2 separate regions of the Homo sapiens genome follow, and region 1 is linked to region 2. Evidence: fine-mapped expression QTL. A gene starts in region 2. The other region holds a variant in brackets. All regions are shown on one strand. Distances are from middle to middle. Region 1 overlaps N4BP1 (NEDD4 binding protein 1). Region 2 holds the start of N4BP1 (NEDD4 binding protein 1).

What was found. PIP is the estimated chance that this variant, and not a neighbour inherited with it, causes the effect.
Region 1: its variant is the best candidate, but not a certain one, in a credible set for the expression of N4BP1 in whole blood (TOPMed, PIP 0.69).

Annotation. Positions count from the first base shown.
Region 1 is chr16:48,542,063-48,544,966 of GRCh38, forward strand. N4BP1 (NEDD4 binding protein 1) reads right to left here. Exons shown (of 7, transcript NM_153029.4): 7 at 1-1,199. The coding sequence ends at 842. Among named protein-coding and RNA genes, the nearest start is that of N4BP1, 67 kb to the right of the region's middle. RefSeq lists enhancers at 1-59, 60-560. The variant C/T (reference allele first, on the strand shown) is at 1,092.
Region 2 is chr16:48,608,544-48,611,447 of GRCh38, forward strand. N4BP1 (NEDD4 binding protein 1) reads right to left here and starts at 1,637. Exons shown (of 7, transcript NM_153029.4): 1 at 1,232-1,637. The coding sequence starts at 1,429. It overlaps LOC124903687 (a long non-coding RNA gene), which reads left to right and starts at 1,767. Exons shown (of 2, transcript XR_007065063.1): 1 at 1,767-1,975; 2 at 2,112-2,670. RefSeq lists enhancers at 768-817, 1,768-1,817, 1,828-1,907 and a silencer at 1,128-1,727.

The DNA of each region.
Region 1 (2,904 bases), 66 kb before region 2:
CTTCCAGAGCCAGGCCAGGCATGTGGAGGCCCCTGACTGTGGGCGTGTCAAGCCCTGGCTGGGGAGCCTGCTGCCTGCCCGGCCACTCCTCAGCTGTGGCTGTGGCTGTGGGCATGGCCGGACGGCGTGCACACTGGGCCGTCCCCTTTTGCGCAGGGTGGAAGGGGGAAGGAGGGTGGGACTCCATGGGCTCCACGATGTCTTCTAGCCCTGGTATTCTGTGAGACTAACTTCGCCCTGGTCATTCACCATGGCTAGGCACCAAGTGCCATCTAGTGGCACCGCGGGTCCACTTTCACAACACTCCAACCAAAGACTGCAGAACAAACCAACTCTTACCCACTTTAACTCCGGGGGTGAGGGCAGAGGAGGCTGGAAGGGTGAGCACACTTCATGGTAGTGATGGGACATACTCATCTCAAGAAAATATACTTTAAGACGTCTTGCTTTCCTTAAGAAAGCAACACTTTTTTTTTTATTTATTTATAAAGGCTAACCATATCCATTTGTCAATATTTTCGGCTTTAAGGAAAATAGTTTAAAAAACATAAAAAGGTAAATACACTCAAGAGTAACTGCTATTAAACAGTTCTGAACAGGCAGAAAATGTAGACTTTCCTTTAACAGAAAATGTTAAATCTGTAATAGCAGCATAATTTATATATAGAAAAAAGCTGGTTTTGAAAACCCAGATTTATACCCAAAACATTTTTTTTCTGTACAACTGCGTTTACACTGGGAAATAAGTTTCTTCACATTATGTTCATTCCCATCAGGTACAGGTGTGAGCTTGAGTTTGATCAGCCAGCCCTGAGCGCAAGCTCAGCGCTCAGCACAATCTTCAATCCAACACCATGGCAGAAAGCGCATTTAGATCTTTCATGTATGGGTGGGCCACCAAGATCTGGTCTATTTTCAGTCTTTGCTCTGAGTCAGGGAAGATCTTCAGAAGGGCTTCCCTCAGCTCGTTGGTTTCTGCAGAAGATCTCTGAGCTGGCATGGGCAGGTTCTGCTGGAGACTGGGGAGGGCTGGCAGCAGTGGGAAGTGGGGCTGCTGAGGGAGCCAGTGGCTTGAAGGGGCTCCCTGAATC[C/T]GGGTCGGAGGCTGGTGGCTGGTGCTGGCTGCCTGGGTGCCAGGGACTCTGAAGCTGGGGTCAAACATGCCCACATTTGGCAGGGCACTGAGTAGGGGCTGCATATCTCTGTGAATGGAAGTGAGTCCTGGTGAGTTGGGTTATAAGTAAACAAAAAATCATAGAGCTATTTTAGAAGGTACCTGCGGCAGGCCTTGAGGCTCAGGATGCCGCTCCCTGGCTTCCAAAGGCAGGATGCAAGACTGAGGTGGAGATGGTGCCATGAGACACCCACAGAGGAGCCTGCGGGGATTTCACTGACATCACCTCAAGGCGTGCCAGGGAATCAATGCGCTCTATGAGGGAGCACCACCCTCCCAGGTCTTCTGCTGTGAGGACTGACCCCATCCAGCTGTTTGGCTCTAACCAGGGTACCCTTGGGAGCTTTCAAAAGGTTTAACAGTGTCTTACTCTTCTGAAGATTTTGATTTTGTGCAGGACCCTGATTAATAGAAATTAGAAGAGACTCCTTTTGGGGAGAGTGGCAGTCCCCACCGACTCAGTCTAGATGAGGTGTGGGTGGGTGCCCACACTTGTATGCACATGGGTATGTGCGAGTATGTGTGTACAGGGAGGGCATCTGTATCGCTCAAAAGCCTCCCACTGGACTCGGCCTGCAGGCGAGAAATGAGGCTAGCTGAAGTTTCCCCAACTTCAAAAGCTCAACTAACTTCAACAGCCCCTCTGTGATGGAAGTGATTCCCAACTTCTTAACCGATTTCTGAGCCGCTCCACAAAGAGCCACCAAGTGAGAGTGAAAAGGCAGGCAGGACAGACCCCGTGCCAGGTTGCTCAAGGAGCAGGAGCAAGCAGAGGACTCTCCTTCTGGTAACTCTGACCCGCGGACCTGATTGATGCTCTGACACAGGCCTCGGGCCTGAAGCCCAGCAGGGGATTTCCAAGTTCAGATGTGGGGAAGCAAAATGAGATGGACTGATGAGCACAGCAGGTGTGGAAAATGGCTGCCATTCTCTTCATGTGGGTAGAAAAGCATGGCATTTGGGAATTAAGTCCTCGTCTGTGTCATAAAACCCAAAGGCTCAAAAGAGAAATGATTCACAAGACCAGGGAGTTGAAATTGTAGTGGTCTCCTAGGTAGAAGAGACCACCATGTAAAAAAAGAAACCCATCACCACCTACCACTGAATCCAAACCTACAGCTCCCAGTGGTTCCTGTTGCAAATGGAAAAGATCAGCTGGAAAGTGTGACTGCCTAAAAATGCTGAGAGAGCTGTGTGTCTTCCTCTCAGCTTAGACCCCCCATCACACCCCCATGCAAATACCAGCTGGGAATGCACAGAAGTGCAGCCTGGTTTAGTTTTTAAAAAGAGTAAACATCAGTCATGGGGTCATATGATCTCCCTGTTAGGTTCACAGGAATCTTTAGTTAATGTCTGTTACCTAAGAATTATGAAAACAGAAACAACCACTAACAAGGTGTCCTAAAAACAAAACAAACCCCAACTACAACAAAGAAAACCTAAACTACCAAATCATTTTCAGATAAATATTGAATACTGGCTTTTCCATTCAGTGAAGGTAGAAAGTAATGGTCAGTTCCCCCAGGCAGTGATTCCTAAGCAGTAAGGAAATTAATATAAGCATAACATGTTCAAAGCAAATGACTTTAGAAAGTGAATGTAAAAAGACACTCACACATACAAAATGACCCCATCAGGCACTCGTGATTCAGAGGGAGAGCTCTCACACATACATGATGAACCTAAGTAGTATTCGCCAGTAAGTGACCACCAGCTTGGAAAACTAGCTTTGT
Region 2 (2,904 bases):
GGAAACAAACTCCCTAGGTCTGAATCCTGCTGCCCTACTTAGGAGATGGAAAAACCTAGAGAAACTTGGTTACCTAGGAGGAGCAACATACTGTGTTGCTTTTTGGTTTGGAAAGGGGGGGAAGTAGATAGAGGTGCTGAAGAGGTCTGAAATGCTGATTTAGGCAGAAGGTGAGTCACCACTTTGAGTTTCAGTTTCCCCAGCTGTTAATTAAAAAAAAAAAAAAAGGCGGGGTGGTGGTGGGGAGGATAAAATCTACCTTATTAGAAGCCATAAGGGCTGCACATTCCTTCTGAAGCAACCTGTGATGTTCTTAAGCGTTATGTAAATGTTAGTTGTAGGTAATATCAATACAAAGAATAACGCTATTTTTTGTTAACATATTAAATATCCGGCCGGGGTGGCTCCCGCGTGTAGTCCCAGCACTTTGGGTGACCGAGATGGGAGGATGACTTGAGTCCAAGAGTTCGAGACCTGCCCGGGCAACATAGTGAAATCCCCTACCAAAAAAAAAAAAAAAAATGAGCCGGGCGTGGTGGCGCGCTCCTATAGTACTAGCTACTCGGGAGGCTGAGGTGGGAGGATCACTTGAGCCCGGGAAGTCGAGGCTGCAGTGAACTGAGACCGCGCCACACTGCACTCCACTGTGGGTGACAGAGTGAGACCCTGTCTCAAATAGAAAAAAATAGGTAAACATAAATCCTTTCTTTCTGACATTCTCCGAGCGTTTTATTACTATTAATAGTTTTTTTCCGATTCTCAAGAGGAACTGAGATCCCAAAAAGGCTCAGAACTGCAGTAGTGGAGGCCCGGGACTGGGGGATAAAGGCTTAGGTGGTGGACGAGGCTGCGGGCCCAGCAACAGGCCTTGCGTACCATCCTGGGGGCCGGGGAACTGACAACAACAGGCGACATGCGCAGCGCACCCGATCCGTGCCACACGCTGTGCCTGCGCTTCATACACATCCCCCACTTTCATCCTCGCGACAGCCCTCTGAGGTAGGTACTTTCGTCAGCGCCACTTTACAAATGGGGAAACTGAGGCTCCGGGGATCAAGCCGCTATCCAAGGTCACATGGCTCGCGAGCCGAAAAGGCACGTTCGCTGGCTCCCGAGACTGCGTTCCCAACCCAGGCGCATCGCGGCGGACGGCGGGGGCGGGGAGGAGCGGGAGCCCGGAGACCCGGACCGATCGAGGCCGCGGGCGCGCGGGGGCGGCGGCCGGACTCACCTTGGCGCTGTGCACCGCCTCCTGCGCCCCGCAGAGCTGCAGCCAGATGCGCGCGGGCAGCGGCTCCTCAGCCCCTAGCGCGCCGAGCACGGCTAGGCTCACGCCAAACAGGCCCTCGATACGGCCGCGGCTCTGCTCCAGCAGCTCCGCCTTCTCAGCTGGCGCAGTGAACTCGTCCAGCACCGCCCGGGCCGCCATGGCGGGCGCGGCCTCCCGCGGCGGCGCCGGGGGCCGGCGGCGGCGACGCCCCCTCAGCTTGCTGCCGCTGCTCCCAAGCCAGTCAGGCGGCGTCGGCCCTTCCCGGCCGCCTCGCCCCCGCCCGCGCCCCGCCGCCCGCCCTCAGGCCCGGCTATACCATCCCGCCACGACCGCAGCAGCTTGGCAATTGCTGGCAGCGAACCCCTCCGCCCCTTTGCCGCCGCCGCGGGCCGGGCCCCGCCGCCGCGCATGCGCCCCGGCCGCAGCCGTCATTGAGGCTCGCCGCCCCCTAGGGGAAGGGAGTAGGGTGAAGGCGACGGAAGTTGACGTCACCCTCAGTCGCCATGTTGGTTGAGAATAAAGGGATGGTTTTGGAGGCCTGGGCGGACTTCTTTGATGAGGGGAAACCGCTTTCGCGGGATCTGGTGGATGTAGATATATGGGTTTATAGTTGGGGAAACTTAATTGCCAGGAGGCGAGACTGAGAGTGTCACAGGGATTGGACTTGACCTCAGACATCTTGACGCTCAAACCAGGATTCTAGCAGTTGAGTTATTCAGTTTCACGTTAATCCACAGGCAGACGGGACTTTTCTTTCTCTGTTTCTTCCCTTCCTCCCTACCCTTTTACCTTCTTAGCTGCCCTTCTCACTTTTTTCTCTTTCCCTTTTTATTTCTTTCAGTAAAAATGGTAGCAAGAAGAGAAGAAAATGGGCATACTTACGGAGAATTGAAAATCAAAAAAATGATTAAGATAAATTCAAGAAGGCCGGGCGCGGTGGCTCACGCCTGTAATCCCAGCAGTCTGTGGGGGCAGAGGCGGGTGGATCACTCGAGGTCCGGAGTTCGAGACCAGCCTGACCAAAATGGAGAAACCCCCGTCTCTGCTAAAAAAAAAAAAAAAAAAAAAAAAAAAAAAAAAAAAAAAAAAAAAAATTAGCGCGGCGTGGTGGCACATGCCTGTAATCCCAGCTACTAGGGAGGCTGAGGCAGGAGAATCGCTTGAACCCTGGAGGCAGAGGTTGCGTGCGGTGAGCCGAGATTGCGCCATTGCACTCCAGCCTGGGCAAGAAGAGCGAAACTCCGTCTCAAAAAAAAAAAAAAAGATAAATTCAGGAGAGTGATTTCTTCTGTGAGGGAAGAAAGGGGATATGTTATGGGAGAAGCCCGAAAAGTGGGAGTTTGGGGGCTCACTCATGATCTTCCCTGGGACTGGAGCAAATAAACCCTAACCCCTCTCCAGGTCTGTTTTCTGATCTGTAAAATAAAAGAGTACACTCAGTTATCTCTAAGGCCTTTTCCAGGCCTTTATATTCTCTGAGTCCATGAAAACAGATTGTGGAAGATAAAGTGTTGGATTCCTTTCCTTCAGCTAAATATTGTGGCTATAGTAGATAGGGGCTCTGGGAATATTACCTCTCTCTGTTTTAATTTTTCATCTATAAAATGTAGATAATAATAGTACTTCCTATTGTG